2 separate regions of the Homo sapiens genome follow, and region 2 is linked to region 1. Evidence: fine-mapped expression QTL. A gene starts in region 1. The other region holds a variant in brackets. All regions are shown on one strand. Distances are from middle to middle.

What was found. PIP is the estimated chance that this variant, and not a neighbour inherited with it, causes the effect.
Region 2: its variant is the best candidate, but not a certain one, in a credible set for the expression of TBX3-AS1 in testis (GTEx, PIP 0.55).

Annotation. Positions count from the first base shown.
Region 1 is chr12:114,677,113-114,685,533 of GRCh38, forward strand. It overlaps TBX3-AS1 (TBX3 antisense RNA 1), which reads left to right and starts at 5,180. Exons shown (of 2, transcript NR_187552.1): 1 at 5,180-5,522. It overlaps TBX3 (T-box transcription factor 3), which reads right to left and starts at 7,063. Exons shown (of 7, transcript NM_005996.4): 1 at 5,700-7,063; 2 at 3,767-4,034; 3 at 2,393-2,539; 4 at 468-544. The coding sequence starts at 6,088. RefSeq lists a promoter at 7,065-7,574.
Region 2 is chr12:114,747,619-114,756,039 of GRCh38, forward strand. All of the region lies in intron 1 of TBX3-AS1 (TBX3 antisense RNA 1), which reads left to right. Among named protein-coding and RNA genes, the nearest start is that of TBX3, 68 kb to the left of the region's middle. The variant TGCACACACAC/T (reference allele first, on the strand shown) is at 5,004.

The DNA.
Region 1 (8,421 bases):
TACTCTCCAGCTGTCTACGTAATGCAAAATGATACATGTCCCCACGAAGGAGGGAGAGAGCCATACATCTTTCCGAAGTCCCCAGCTCTGTCTGATGGTATTTGGAAGACAGGATTGCAAAAATTCCCAAGTATTTTCTCAATGGCATGGTTCTTTCTGGGACCTGCCTAGGATGAACTTAAATTAATTAGGAATTAATAGGCATCCCTGTATAATCTATTATCCCTGATGCTTCTCTTCCAGAGATAAGTATGGTGTAGCCTAGTTAATTTCCTTAAAGGTAAGGAGGTAGGAAAAGTACTTGTCCTGGGTATACTGATAGCGGCAAGCATGTAGCAGTGGGGAAAGTGAATGATTTCCACCCGCTCTTAGGATAAGTGCCTGCATCTCACTTCTAACACTTCAGAGTTGGATCCTAAAAAAAGGGATTTTTCTAAACTATCTAATAAATAATTGTTTCAACTCACCTTTTTTCTCTTCGGCCATTTCCAGTGTCCCGGAAACCTTTTGCAAAAGGGTTGTTGTCTATTTTTAACTGGGTTATCTATTGGAAGAGACACAAGCAAGACAGAGACATTGTTCTCATTTTCTAGAATGTTTTGAGGGTGTTTTTCCCAACTCAACAAGTCTAGAGATGTGACTGCCAACAGAAGTCATATAGATATGCCAGGGAAAGGAGATAATAAGGAAACTGTGGCAGGGCTTGTATCTCCTATATGAGGCCAAACCAGGGATTTGGGGATGAAATTATTCAAAGAAATTCTTTTCTTTGGGCAGCCAACAGTTTGGGTTTAGACATGGAAGTGTTGTCAAAGTCATCAAGAGGGAAAACCTGTAGATCTTAAAATTATGCTTTCATTTTGATTTTTATACAGTGCAATTAATCATAAATTATAGCATACTCCCTTCACACACACACACACACACACACACACACACACACACTCCTTTTCCATGAATCCAATAAATGATTTATGGGGTTTCACTACCCTTGTGCGGGAGTGAGTGCGGGAGTGAGTTTAATTTTTTTTTTCTTTGCCTGGGGGGTGGTTTGAGGAAATTACAATATTGACAGTTACAGTACTGAATGACCACTGGAAACATCTGTTTTCATTTATATGCTCTGCCATGGCCATTAGGTGGAGAAGGCCCATGGCCTTTTTGTCTGATCAAAAATGCTACATTTTATTATTACATTAACAACTTCATTTCACAGGATTCTGGGTCTAGAGGGCACATGCATTTTGCACTTTGAGAAAAATGCTATAGTGTGTAATCTTTCAAATCCCTTCCCCTTGGTGGGAAGAAGAAGTTATATACACAGAGTTACTCAGAGGTGGAAAGGGGGACCCTTGGTTGGATTCATGTTCTTGGAATAAATTGCTCTATTGAAGACTTCAGGTTTCACAGGGAGAGAAGATCATGTTTTGGTATTCACACTAAAGAAATTTAGCTGGAACATCCCCATCATGAAGTCCACAGAGGACCCAAGGACAGTGACAATGACAGTGAGTTCAAAATGAAGTGTGTTGTCAGGTAAAATGGACTCTCTTTGAAGTCCAGGATTGCAGAGCAGGGGTCTTCAGTCCCTCCTCCCACCCCATAACTGCTAACAGCCAATCTGGGAACTGGTGAATCAGCAGTAAGGGTCACTTTTTCTGTGCCCATGACCTTCAGGCCACCATAGCTCTAGATATCAGGTGCTTTCCCTTTTGGGGATCCTTCTAACCTCCAGATTCAGGCCTGGGGGAGGGGGGGAATTCAAATGAAGTGGTGACTTTGGCCACCCCAACTCAAAAGCCTCAGACAACTCGATTAATATGACCCTGTGATCAGGGTAGGTTTTTCCAACCACACGCATGCATGCACACACATGCACACACACACACACATCATAACACAGCAGCATAAAAGGTAATAAAAACCAGACCAGCTACTCAGGATTTCTGGCTAGGGGAGAAAAGCTGGTCTCTACTAGGATTCTCCTCCCAGGATCCCAAATGGCTTTTGCCTTAAATTTTTAGCTGGTTCCTTTTGAATGTGACTTCTTGATCCTTCTTCCCCAAGGGGAAGAAGATGAACCTTAAAACAGACAGGACAAAGCCCAAGAGGGGGGGAGGAGTGGGTGGCATCAATGACAGCAGTTCTAGGAGTTTCTCTGTGGCAAAATTAGTATGGCGTTTTTTTGCTCAGCATTGTTCCTACCTAGTCAAGGTGTTTTTCTGTCTCCTCGAGGTGTCATTGTCCTTTCCCCCCAAATGCTCCACAAATCACAAAAGACAACTCAAGACTCTCGTCTCCACTCTCTTGTAACTTTCTCATCCTGACTTAAAGCAGCTTTTAAGGGGAAGGCAAAATATCACCATTAAAAAGGAAAGCCCCTTGAGTTTACCTTATCATTCTGGTATGCAGTCACAGCGATGAATTCAGTTTCGGGGAACAAGTATGTCCGAAATGTACTATAAGGGAGTTTCAAGATGTCATTGGCTCTTACAATGTGGAACCGGGGCTGGTATTTGTGCATGGAGTTCAATATAGTCTGCAGGGGCAGGGAAGAGGAGACATACATAAAACAAGGATTTAGCAGAACAAACGGGATCTTAGGACCCCTGCCAGGCTGAAATCTTCCCCACCGCAGGGTACCACGCTTGTACCGAGCCCACCTCCTTGGAGTACCCCCTGGGTACGTTTCGCTCCACAGATGTTATCTTCTGGAGAATCCAAATTGCTCCTCAGTTGCCAAAGGGCCCCCCCCACCCTCACCATCTAAGGATCATTCATACCTTGAACCCTAGCCTACCTGAGTACCAAAACTATAATTCCCCTGCCACGTAGCGTGATCACTTGGGAAGGCCAAAGTCTTAAAAGATAGAGAAAAACATGCATTTTAATTTACAAAATGATTCAGTACTTTAAGCGCCCACTAATTGACGAGCCCAATCCACTTAAAGCCCTGAAAGGCTGAACTCTAGAGAGGAATATTTATGCCTTAATCAAATCAAGGGCTTCAAATGCAATTCCTGCCCGCTGAAGATATTTCCGCGCCATTCGCGTCTTCCTGGGCCTAATCTTTCTGCTTACTCCTTGCTTATCACGCTGTTTATTTTATTGAAATGTTGGGGAGGGGTAGGAAAAGGCGCAAAAGGTCCTTTGCCTGATATCTACAAGCAATGAAAGTTTTCTAAGTTTCTAAGCACTGTCACTGAATCCATATATACACTCCCAACACACAAACCATTTTTTTCTGAAGATCTAAGCCTCATTTAGGGTAAGCCGGACTCCCACCTAAGCCCAATTCTTTTTTTAGTAAAAGAACGAGTTTTTAAAAATGTATTCACACCATTTAACCAACAGAGTCAAGGCTCCGAAACGTAAACTCTCCTGAGAAAATAATATCACTGGTTTCAAAACAGAAGTATGATATTTTAAAACAAAACAAATCCTTTAGGAATACATAGCCTTGAAATTGATTTTAGCTCTTAAAAAATGGTTTTTAACTTCACTCTCAGGTCAGGAATCTACCAAAGAGCTGGAATTGCTATAGAACACAAGCCGGTAAGTTTTCTTGCCCCATTTCTTTTAGAACGCCAGGCCTTCCATTATTTGGAGAGAAACACCCCGAATCCTTTTTCCAGACGAGGACAAGTTTGCTATGCTTAGGGAGAAGCAAAGGAGAAGTCTGGGCTGAAACTCATGAAATGGGAAGCACTGCCTTTGACTGAGTGAAGGAGGAGAAAATTTTACTGAAGAGAGCAATGAAACTTACAAATCCATGTTTGTCTGAAATGTTGTTGGTGAGTTTCAGTTTGTGGAAAGTGACGACTTTGGACATCCACTGTTCCCCAGTAGCGGGGCTGTCCGGGTGAATGTACATCCTCTTTGGCATTTCGGGGTCGGCCTTACCAGCCACCATCCACCGAGAATTGTGAAATTTATAACGACAGTCATCAGCAGCTATAATGTCCATCAATAAAATGTATTTGGCTTTTTTATCCAGCCCAGAACATCTCACTTTAAATGGAGGAAACATTCGCCTATAAAACGAAAGAATAGAAAAGAAAAAGAAAGATAAACCACCCGTAATCTTGGGTTTGATTTCCTATGTATCACATAATATTGAAACCAAGTCTAAGACTTTATATTGTGACTGATAAGCTTACATGTTTCAGAGTGAGGCAACTGGTTGCAAAATCGTTTTCTTCCACAACTAACGTATTAAATATTCTCAGTTTCGCCATATTTAGACGTCCCAAGGTTCAAAACAAATGCATTGTGGCACTGCAATTCTCTACATTGTCTAACAATTTCTTCAATATTTTTTTTGTCCTTGCTTGACTTTACAGATTGCCCTCCTGAGAGCAAATTCTTGCCCATGTCTTTTTCTGTGGGTATCTAGATCTAAACAGGTTGGGGTAAGATTTTTGTAAAGCGCGGTCAGTTAAGACTAGAATTTTCCACCACCCATTGATGAGAAAATGTTAAACTTATCAAGGAAATGAACGTCAAGTTGCACCCCTCCCTGCTGCAGAATAGCAATCCCGCTGTGGGCGAAGTGAAACTGGACTTCAGTGAGTTCCCAGAACGAATTTTGCAGACTTCGGTGCACTCCTGGGCCTGATAACCGATCTGCCCGTGGAGCTGCTAACACATTCCCCCACTTCTTAGGCCAGTCCAAAACCGCAAGACTGTGCCACCACATTGCTGTTAATTTCACAGAAGGGTTGGCATTCTGTAGTCTTGACTTAAAAGGAAGCAAGGAAGCACTTTGCTGGAAAACTGACTAAATGTCTTGTGAGTTTGAGGAGGATTTTATGCCAAACTTTGGCCTCATTTAGCTTGGAAGGAGACAGAACGCTTAAGATATCATGAAGGGGATTTTATTTTTGTATCAACTTTATGCCTTTACAGGCTTCAATGCTATTACAAAAAAAAAATCAGTGATTTTAAATGACTATTACAGGATCTTCTCTTCCAGGCAGGTTTTGGTCAGGCAAGGACCTTTAAACATTATGTAAAATATGGTTGATAATATTCACACATTAAAAAAAAGGTGTGTGTCTCCTCACTGGCTCCTTAAGTCTGCAAACATAATCTTAAATTATGCAAAATTGCCTGCTGAACTCGCCCTTGGGTTACAGACACGTGAAGTAGTGTGGGCAAACAAACCAAAATGCCCTTCGATTTCTCTCTGACCAGGGCAGCAGCAGGCCCCTTTAGACCCAGAGGCTAGACTGGAGGGCAGAAAGGGCCGGGGAATGGTGTCAGGCCTCCCAATACCCACACAAAAGGAAAGGGCTTTAAGTTTTTCTCTCTGAGAACAAAATAAAACAGACAACACAACATCAACAAAGAAATAAGGATGTTCCAGGAGGGTTTGAAGAGTGAGTTTCTTGCAGTAGAGTGCCTTTTTTTTTTTTCTTTCCTGCTCCCTGCAGGGATGTCTGTGCTCCACTGAAAAATTCTGTCTGTTCGGGAGGGAACCCAGGATGCAGACCAAATGCAAGACCCATGCAGATGCCCAGGTAAGCTGAAATTTCCTGCCACCGGGGCAGGGCCTGGAAGTCTGTGCATACATTTCTAGGGGAACTAACTTTTCGTCCAAGCCGTAATAACCGACCAACCGACTGTTCTGGGAGCAGAGAAATAAAGGGAGGAAAAAACTCTCCAACAGCTTAGGGGAGGAGGCCCCCACTGCTTACCTTCCCGACTTGGTAATGACCATCTCGGTGCCCCGCTTGTGAAACTGATCCCAAAGTTCTTTAGCCTCCAGGTGCACCTTGGGGTCGTCCTCCACCTCTTCTTCGGGCTCCATGGTCTTCAAAGGCCTCAGATGCGCCTGGGGCCCCAGGGAGGAGAACGGGATGCCGGTCTCGGCCGCCCCCACCAATTGATCCATGATCGGCTTGGCCAGGGCGCCCGGCAGCGAGAGCGCCGCCGCGCCGTTGGGAGGCAGCGTCAGCGCGGGGAAGAACGGCGGCTGGTGACCCAGCACCGCGCTCATGGCGAAGTCCGGCGCCCGGTGAGGTAGGAACGGATGGTAGGCCATGCTTGTCCCAGGAATGACCGGATCTCTCATGGAGAGGCTCATCCACTCCAGGCGGGGCGCTGGGCTCCAGCCGGGGACAAGTCCGCAGCTGCTGTGTTTTGTTGTTTTTTTGTTGTTGTTTAACAGCAGCACATAATTCAAAAGGGGGGAAAAAGCAAAACAAAAAAGAAAGAAAAAAGAAAAGGAGGCAGAAATCACAACTAATGCACTTCAAAGGGAGGAGGGGAAGTGTCTTTTGGAGAATGGGAGGCCGCTTTTAAAGAGGGCAAGGCGAAAAATCAGCAAACATAGTCGCGCGGGTGACCGTCCTTGTGCCTTGCGTTTTTAAAAAGCCGCTCCTGAACGTCGGTTTCAGAAGCGAGAGGAGCGAGCAGGGTCTCGACTCGCGCCCGAGCCCTGCCGCTGAGCTCGAAATAGACACTCCAGCCCTGCGTCCCAGGAATCTCTCTCCAGCCCCTAGGTCTTTTGTTGCAAATGTGAAAGGTTCTCCTAGAAGACTTTTTACCTTTCTTTTTCTTCTTCCCCCGCCCCCTATCTGTCTTCCTCTCCCTCTTTCTCGCTGGTGGCGTCTGCAGCTGTGCTAGACCCGGCTTTAACAGGGAGCGAGAGAGCGGAAAAAGTCTCTCTCCTTTAAAAAAAAAAAAATCTGATTTAAACCCCCTTCTACCAGCGCTATCAAAACTTGAATTGCAAACTGGCTTCCGTTCGCCGCCCTCCTCCTCCTTCCTCTGCTCCGAGCCTCCGGAGGGTGTCTCGGTTTCAATCCAAATCTTGCTGGGCTCTTCTCCCGTGCCTCTCTCTCTTCCTTGTCCTAAAACGTGAGCGAATTCGCTTCCTAAATCTGTGTCCAGGCGCGCAGGGCAGGGAGGATTTAGAGGGGGAAAAAATGGAACAGAGGGAAAGAGAGGGAGGGGAGAGAGAGAGAGAGAGAGAGAGACGGAGTCGGAGAGGGAGGGAGCGAGAGAAAGCGAGAGCTCCTCGCCACCCTCCGCCGCCTCTAGAATTCACCGGGCGTCTGCTCGGCGGCTCTAGAAGGTCGGGCTGCGCTGTGGGCTGCGGGGAGCCGGAGGCCTCTTGATTGGCTCTTTGACGCTTTCGGACCAATTGTGTTGCTGCATAGGCGTGGTTTTCACAGGTCGAGTGCTGGGGGATAGAGCTGAGTTATAAAAAGAAGGTGTCGGAAACTGTAACGTCGCAGCGCCGCATCGGTACTACTGCCTGTCCTGTGAATATGTCAACATGATCAGAGGGCGGGCGGGAGCCACTGGGGAGCGCGCGCGCACAGAGTCGCCTCTAGGTGGCTTATCGAGAGATCGCTGCAGCCCCTGAGCTCGCTCGCTCGCTCTGGTTCAGCCCACGTCTGAAATGCCTCAGTCATCCAGCCGGGGATCGAGGGAGGAGGCAGGGCCAAGGAGGAAGGGGGAGGGAGAGAGGGAGGGAGCCAGCGAGCAGGCGAGCCGGGCGGGGAAGGCGGAGAGCGCGCCCGGGCGCCGGGCAGGGGCGCTCGCCTCTCTTGCACTCCGCTCGCCTCTCCGACCGCCGCGGCCGGTTCTCTCTCCAGCTCTCCTTCTTCTCCCCGCCCCGGGCGAGCCGGGCGGGTGGCCGAGCCTCCCCGCGAGCTGCCATCCGGCCACTCGGTTCTACAAAAGCCGGCGGCAGCCGAGAAGCGAGCGCCGAGACTCCAGGCTTGCGTGCTCTCCAGCCCCACGTGGAGCCAAGCTCCGCCCGGCCGCCGCTGAAGGGCTCCCGAGCTCGGGTGTCTCGGTGCTGGTCTCCCCTGCGTCTGGGCTGGGGGAGCACAAGGATGCGGCCATATCTCAGCACACGCATGTGTGGGCTTCCTCTCCACTGCGCCCCACCCGCAGCCATGTGCGGGTACCCAAACACCCCCGGTGTATCTGTACTCGAACACGCGCCAACACACTGGGACTGAAACACACACCGAAAAACACGTACACACAAACACGTACACAGCCTGCGCGGCTGGCCCTGCCTGAGCTCCTGGGGAAGATGGATTTGGGATTTTTATGAAATGCATTTACCAGCCCTTTTGGATCTCGTCTTTCATTTGCATGCGGGCCCCCATATTCCACCTGGATGTGGGTGTGGGTGTAGAGAAGAGAATGGAGGATCTGGACAAAGCGAGCACAGCGAGAGACTGGGTTCTGAGCCTGTCCCCTCCAAGCCGCTGCCCTCACCTCGAGGCCCGGCTGGGTGCACAGCACAGGGTAAGGGGTGGGCGATTGGGTTGGGGGAGGCGCGCCAGCCTGGTATCTTCTCTAGGCATCGCACTTATCTCTCGGTGCCTCAGTTCTTTCTCCACCCCGGGGACTTAATCTGGCCAGAAGTCGGGGAGGGAGGGTGAATTTGTAAAA
Region 2 (8,421 bases), 71 kb after region 1:
CCTTCCTCCGGCTTTCCTGGGACATGTTTTGGCTCCGGCCTCTGACAGATGGGATGAGGGAACGTGTGGGCTGATAGAGAGGGTCCTTTGGAGGGGGAACTGGATGCGGGGAGAGCCCCCTTAGGCTGTTTAAAAGAGATACAGTTTCTGAAAAGTTTAATAAGGCAGAAAACAATCCCGGATGCCAAATTTGCCTTCCAAAAGCTAACTATTCGGAATGCCTCCTGCCCCTACATGGAGGAGAAAATAGCGTTTCTCTAGCCAAAAAAGCTGTTTTCTAGAGAGGAGAAATTCTGTTTCTGCACGGGGATGGGTGCTGGAAGCTTAGTGACAAAAATGCAGAAACAAAACCCAGTTCTAATGCAAATCGGTGAGAGGAGAAAGAAAATCAGTGAGACGAGGATCAGCATGAAACAATAATCAAAGCTCAGGCTCATTTCTTTTCTCACTTTTGTTTTTGTTTTGTTTTTGAGACAGTCTCACTCTGTCGCCCAGTCTGGAGTGCAATGGTGTGATCACGGTCACTGCAACCTCTGCCTCCCGGGTTCAAGCGATTCTCCTGCCTCAGCCTCCCAAGTAGCTGGGATTACAGGTGAGTACCACCATGCCCAGCTAATTTTTGTATTTTTAGTAGAGATGGGGTTTCACCATGTTGGCCAGGCTCTTCTCGAACTACTGACCTCAGATGATCCACCCGCCTCGACCTCCCAAAGTCCTAGGATTATAGGCATGAGCAACCATGTGTGGCTTTTTTTTTTTTTTTTTTTTGAGACAGGGTCATGCACTGTTACCCAGGCTGGAGGACAGTGGTGCAATCACAGCTCACTGTAGCCTCAACTTCCTGAGCTCAAGTGATCCTCCCATCTCAGCCTCCTGAGTAGCTGGGACTACAGGTGGGCACCACCATGCCCAGCTAATTTTTTATTTTTTGTAGAGACGGGGTTTCGTTGTGTTGTCCAGGCTGTTTTCCAACTCCTGGGATCAAGTGATCCCCCAGGCCAGGCCTCCCAAAGTGCTGAGATTACAGGTGTGCACAGCTGTGCCTGGCCCAGGCTCATTTCTTACTCTGTTTCTCTCTTGCCTGTTAAAGAGAGCAGTTCAGCAGGGCTGCTATCACACTGGGTGAGTGACCTTGGAAAAGTCACTGTGTTTAACCTGAATCTCAGCCTTCGGTCTACAATAAGAAAATTAATACTATTCACTTCCACTGAGAAGTTAAAACTAAAATAAGGAATTTAAATCCCAGCACTTTGAGAGGCCGAGGTGAGAGGATCACTTAGACCCAGGAGGAGTTAGAGACCAGCCTGGGCAACACAGGGAGACCCCATCTCTACAAATAATATTTAAAAAGGAGGAATTTTAGTCAAATGGCTCAGCAAATGCTGGGTTCTTGGCAGACACTTGCCTAATAAATGTCTGTATGTTGGGGTGAGGGGTGGTGCTGTGCCAAAGACACCCTGGCCCTTCATATGTGTGGATTGGTTTGGTTCACAATGTTTCAAAATGTAGATGAGCTCCGAGGTTTAGCCAAAGGGACATTTTTGGCTGGAAAACATGAAAATGTAGAGCCAGCCTCCTAGTGTGGGCCTGGAAGCCCCCAGCAATGTTGGACTAAATAGTAAATTGGAAATTGATGAGCATGTCTGGAAGCCTTTCAGGGAGAATGGAGGCCGTTGACCCCCCACATAGCAAAAACCTCCCAGGAATCCTTGTCAGCAGTGTTTTGTCTCCTAATAACATGTTCAGTTATTTGAAATGACCCTGATCCTCTGTGAACACAGGCTTGTTTTCGGTGATGGACAGAAGGTGAGGAAGGTATTAGACAGGTTTGTCCAAACCCTGTGTGCCCTGGATGGGCTTTGGACTGCGGTGAATCTCATCACCATGAACCATGTTTCCCTGGTGGCTGCTGCTAATTGTTCTGTGGAATGACTGGGCTTTCCCGGTGCTCTGGCAGACAGAGGATGGACAGGCAGGCCACATATGGGGAAATAGGCAGAGATGGGGTAGAGGCCATGTAAGGAGAGGGAGAGACAGAGACAGACAGAGGAGAAATAGACAAAGAATGAAAGAGTCAGGCAGAGAGAGAGAGAGAAAGAGAGAGACGGAGAGGGAAGAGATAGAGGTTAAAAGTTTAAAAGTCTGAGAGCATGAAAGAAGCAGCAGAAGAAAAAAGAAAAGGGAGCGAGACAGAGAGAATTACCCACAAATTCTCTTTTCTACAGAAGAACAGAGCCAAGGAGAGGGTCAGAAATACAGACAACACCTGCAAAACAGAAACATGAAAACTCAGCTACATAAGGAGAAATAGAGACCGTGGCTCATGCCGGGAATCCCGGCACTTTGGGAGGCTGAGGTAGGCGGATCACTTGAGTCCAGGAGCTCGAGACCAGCCTGGGCAGCATAGTGAGATCCCATCTCTACAAAAACTTAGCTGGGCATGGTGGCATATGCCTGTAGTTCTAGCTACTTGGAAGTTGAGGTGGAAGGATCACTTGAGCATCCGGGAGGTCCAGGCTGTAGTGAGCCGTGATCGCACCACTGCACTCCAGCCTGGGTGACAGAGCGAGACCCTGTTTCAAAAAGAAAAAGAAAAAAATATAGGGAACAAGTGAATGAGCAGCGAGGGGACTTGCAAGGTAATATCTGGCACATGGAGGTGCTCTATCCCTAGGAAGCTGGCTGTCTTTTCTCTCCCAGAACATCGAGTCCCTCTCAGTGTCACCAGACCTCAAAGTCCCCCGGCTAGCCTGGTGCTCTTAGGGACACTACTGGGATATCACAAGTTAGACATCAGGGCTGCAAGGTGGGATTCCCTCAGGGGAGGCATGAACTGTGGAGAGGATCAAAGGGAGCTGGGGCCTTGGATTCACTGGCAGGACTGCCAGTAGGGCCCACAGGCCTCAATTCCTGGCGGAACCCCCAGGAAACATTCTGATGTGCAGATAGACATGCTCCAACTTCATGCAGGCGGCCTCCTCGCTCCCTCCCTCCCTCCTCGTCTTCCATGTTCCTTGAAATCACAGTTGAGGGTTGGTGAATGTTTAATTGAACTCAAGAGATAGCAGGGTCCTGCTTGAGTTTGTTTCCTTGTGTATACCATGACCATTGGAGTAAGCTGGAGTCTGCCTTACCAAGTTGTCCAAAGACCCGATGGCATGGTGTTAGTGCACTTTGGCGGAAGAACGTGCTCGTTTGGAGCGAGACATTCTTGGGAGGAGATCAGTTCCCTGAACCTTAGTCTCCTCCTGTGTGAAATGGGGGTGATATTATACAAATACGTCTCTGGCTGCATTGCTGGGAGCCGTAAATGTGATTGCTAATGCTGAAAGTGGAACCCGCGCCTGGCACATAGTAAGCGCTCGGCACTTGGCGGCTCTGGAGTGCTTAGAAGACAGAAGCCAGATCGCTATCCTGGACAGGGGGTGATATATGGTATCGAGCTCTGACTGAGAATTGAATTCAACCTCAGCCGGAGAATTAGAACATTGTGATTAGAAACAAGAAGAGGGAAGGGACAAAACAACCTGTCTTCAAGTGCATGATGACAGAGCACAGACTTTCCTGGCAGCCCGAGGGGCTGGGGAAGGACAGGGCAGATCATATTAATAACAATAAATTATATCTGCACTATGATTTATGGGTCCTGATGTGCTTCTCATTATGCTATCTTACAGTACCGTAGGAAGGGCTTATTATCCTTACTGCTGTGTGTTGCAGTGGTTTTAGTGTAATTGTTGCTGTTAGTGACCGTAGTGTTATCCATGCTATTATTGATGTTATTTCTCCTTGTTTCCAAATTGGGGAAACTGAGGCTCGGAGAGAGCTAGCGACTTAACCAAGGAAAAGGTTGGTGCTAGGATTCAAATCTAGGTTTTTTTTAGTCCTGGAGTTTTATTCTGGCTGCATTCTACGCTCTTACAATCCCCTTTCCACCCTGCCATTTTGCAACCTCTTTGGTCTGGGGAGTCTTGGTCCCTGTTTCCCACAATGGACAGTTTTCTCTCCTTGTTAGCCAGGGGTGATGGGGCTCAAGGGTCCTTTCTGTCTAACCACGAGGGCTTCCCTCTGCCTATAACCAACCAGCACTCCATCCCCAGGCCTATTCCTCCCTCATGGGAGCTCCAAGTTCAGTAAGAATCCCTGCAGGCAGCTACCCATTGCAAGGCAGGCAGGGGTGACACAGATTTGAACTTGAACTTTCAAGTCTTCCCCTTGGCTGGCCTCACTTTTGTCTTTGAACTCAGCAGCAGCCTGGCTGGTGGTTTACCCCACTTGTTCTCCTTCACTGCCTTCTCCTTTCCTTCTCTTCTCCCAAAGCCTGCTCAGGACTGAGTTGGTTAGGGACCAGGTTCATTTAGCATTTGCAGGATGAGCTATTTCAAGAATGTGCAGATTCAGTCTTGGAAATGGCAGAGGAGAAGCCTGGCTTGGCTTCTGAGCAGGAGAACAAATGAACCCCTGACCCCCCGCCCTTTCCCCATCCTGCGATTTCCTTTGTCTCAATCCAAAATCCCCCTTTACATGATCCTGGAGGCTTCCTAATAAAATAGAACTGTAACTTTATCTAAGACGAGTGCAGCACATGTAGAATGGATAAGGTGTAATTAATAACAGAAAATAATGCTTCCCCCTCCTGACCTTTCACCCTCATATAAGTGTCTTAAGTTTTATGACAGCTAAGCACAAAATTAGTGTGTGCATGCATGCGTGCATGTGTGTGTGTGTGCGTGTACTTCAGTGTGTGCGTTTGAGCTGAACCTATGTGGGGCCAATACGTCTGTCTAGTGAGCATTCACCTCACCCTGGCTGGAACTGGTTTACGTTTCTGGGTAGACTGGCCTCTCGCTGAACCCGGGAATTGCCTGAAACTGATCTGATTTCTTGAAGTGAGGATTCTGTCTGCATCACAAAATACCCCATGTCTACTTGTATGCAAATGTTTGGACAATGCAGAAAGCATGTATATATAAAAATACAAGGATGGCACGTGAGCATGAGCA[TGCACACACAC/T]GCACACACACACTCACATACTCACACTCACACACACACTATCCTTTGGGTTGTCTGTGATATTTTAGAACCCCAGGGGATGCTGGGGCAGGGCTATTGATACTTATTTGTGTACCTAACAGTGGGCAGGAAAGCAAGATGAGCAGTTCATTGGTTTTGATGCCGGAAATTCTTTGGACATACAAAGATCTCACGATGGAAAATACTCTCTTCAGCAATTGCAGTGCTCCTAATCCCCAGCATGGCATCTTCCTTGCTATTTATCTAGGGGCCAGCGAAAGACACGCGCTCGACTTAGCAAGATAGGGGCTAGACAAACCACGGTGAGGAAAACGGCACCTACAAGTCTTCCCAGACAGCTGTCTGCAGTTGAAATTGAAGTGAGTTCGAACCGATACTGTTTATCTTAATGATTCCACGGCTATGTTCGTTTTAAGTAATATTATCTTTCTTTAAAAGGTCACTGGGCTGGCCCAAGCTATTGGTTTCTCATGATTCATTACGTTTGATGTTCAACTTTTCTCGAAGTCCGCAACACCAACCTCTGGGTTAATGGAAGCCACACCAGCCATGAAGCCAGTAGCTTTGAATCCTCCCTGGATGGGGAGGCCTGGGCCAGGTGGAGTGAGCTGCTTGCTTTTGATCAGCAGTGCTGATGTGAACCAGAGGTCACGCATGTTTGGGGCCTGTGTGTTAGCTCTACCAGACAGCAGCAACTGGGCCTCGACACTCCCTCCCACCCCAAGCCCCTCGAGTTTCGTTTTCCATGGTTGTCCCTCTGTGGGCCGACTTTTTCAAGACCCCTAGGGCACCAGAAGGACTTTTGCTGGGGGGAGATCCAGAGCCCTAAATCACTGGAGAAGTCCCCTTTGTCCACTCCAGGGGTCTTCCTCTTTCCATCCTTGGCTGTTCCAGACACAGATACACCAGTTCCCGCTCCCTCAGGGAATTTCTGCTCACCAGTGACAGGTGGATTTGCAGGGAGATCTCTTCCTCGCAGTAGAGTCTTTGGGTTGTTGAGTTCTTTTATGGGCATGCTTGAACTCTGGAGAGCCCCCAGACTGACAGCCACCTCTGTCTGCTAAATCGATTGTAAATTTTCCTGGCATTATGTCATCCTGTCATCCTTTTACAGATGCTTTTGCCTGCCATATTTTTATGACTCTTCTTCCAAGAGGGGCTGCATGGAGGGTGGTGGGTCAGCGTTATTTATCTGGAAGGAGAAGAGCAGGAGAATTTCTTATCACTGGTATCAGAAAGTGGGATTTCCCACTTATCACCCCCTCTTTGGCTTTGAAGTTTAAAGGCAACACCAACTGGCTGGATCAAGTAGTTTAGGGAGTTCCTTAGGCTGCCATCTTTATAAAATTGACAATGACCAGAAAATGGGGGACTCCCACCCTCCCCTAATTTCATATCCTCCTAGATACTTAAAATCACAGTAGACCAGCCCTGGAGTTTGTTTCCAGGACAAGAAGATCTTGACTGGATTAACGTATTTCCCAATGGAGGCTCTGAGGCTTTGGCAAACATAATAAGAGGAGCAGCTCTTAAACAACAACACTTGAAAAATTAAACAAGTAATATATATTCATTATAGGAGAAGTAGAAAAGGCAGATAAGGAAAAAGAAGAAAATGAAAATCACCTGTAATCCCATTACATAGGGCTAACCATTCATAGTTTACCATATATCTTTCTAGTCTTCTTCTGTGTATGGTATATGCATTTTAAATGAAAATAAGATTGTATCGCATATACTTTTTTGCATTTATTTACTTATTTATTTATTAAGGAGACAAGAGCTGACTATGTTGCCCAGGCTGGTCTCGAAATCCTGGGCTCAAGCGATCCACCCACTTTGGCCTTCCAAAGTGCTGGGATTACAGGTGTGAGCCGCGAAGTCCAGCTTGCTTTTTTGTTCTTTTAGATGGGATCTCACTCTGTCACCCAGGCTGGAGTGCAGTGGTGTGATCATACCTCACTGTAACCTTGAGCTCCTGGGCGCAAGTGATCTTCCCACCTTGGCCTCCTGACTACAGGTGTGCACCACTATGGGACTACAGGTGTGCATATCCATGCCTGGCTAATTAATTTTTTTTTTTTTTTGGTAGAGATGGGGTCTTGCTCACTGTTGCCCAGGCTGGTCTTGAACTCTTGAGCCCAAGAGATCCTCCCACCTCAACCTCCCAAAGTGCTGGGATTACAAGTATGAGCCACTGTACCAGGCACATATCACATATACTGTCAATGGTTCTATTTATCAGGTAAATCATATACATATACATATATAATATTATAATATATTCTACACATAGTATATTTATCTATCTATTTATATGTATATTTTGAGATGGAGTCTCTCACTCTTGTCTAGGCTAGAGTGCAGTGGTGTGATCTCAGCTCACTGCAACCTCTGCCTCCCAAGTTCAAGTGATTCTCCTGCATCAGCCTCCTGAGTAGCTGGGACTTAACAGGTGCATGCCACCATGCTCCATTTATTTTTGTATTTTTGGTTGAGACAAGGTTTCGCCATGTTGGCCAGACTGGTCTCGAACTCCTGACCTCAAGTGATCCACCCACCTTGGACTCCCAAAGTGCTGGGATTACAGGCATGGGCCACCACGCCCAGCCTCTAATATATTTAAATAATACAGAAATAACAAGAACAATAAAAACCCAAATTGTACCCACTATTGACCTCCTAGTGAACACCTTTTTTTTTTTTTTTTTTTTTTGAGACGGAGTCTCGCTCTGCTGCCCAGGCTGGAGTGCAGTGGCGCAATCTTGGCTCACTGCAAGCTCCACCTCCCGGGTTCACGCCATTCTCCTGGATCAGCCTCCCGAGTAGCTGGGACTACAGGCACCTGTCATCACGCCCGGCCAATTTTTTGTATTTTTAGTAGAGATGAGGTTTCACCATGTTAGTCAGGGTGGTCTCGATCTCCTGACCTCGTGCTCTGCCAGCCTCGGCCTCCCAAAGTGTAGGGATTACAGGCATGAGCCACCGCACCCAGCCCCAGTGAACACCTTTCTAGATCTCTCTTTTCAGATTGTTTGCTAACCTGCTTTTACAAAGCTTAGCAATATAGAATGTGCTTCTCCATGCCAATAAATCTGTCTCTACACCAGGAGCTCAGTTGTGTTCCACTGTCAGGAGGCATCATGGGCCAGGCTCAGTGGCTCATGCCTATAGGCCCAGCAATTAATTTGGGAGGCCAAAGTGGGTAAATTGCTTGAGCCCAGGAATTCAAGACCAGCCTGGACAACATGGTCAAGCTTCGTCTCTATAAAGAATTTAAAAGTTAGCTGGGTGTGGTGGTGTGCTCCTGTAGTTCCAGCTACTTGGGAGGCCGAGGCAGGAAGATCCCTTGAGCCCAGGAGGTCAAGGCTGCAGTGAGCCACGATC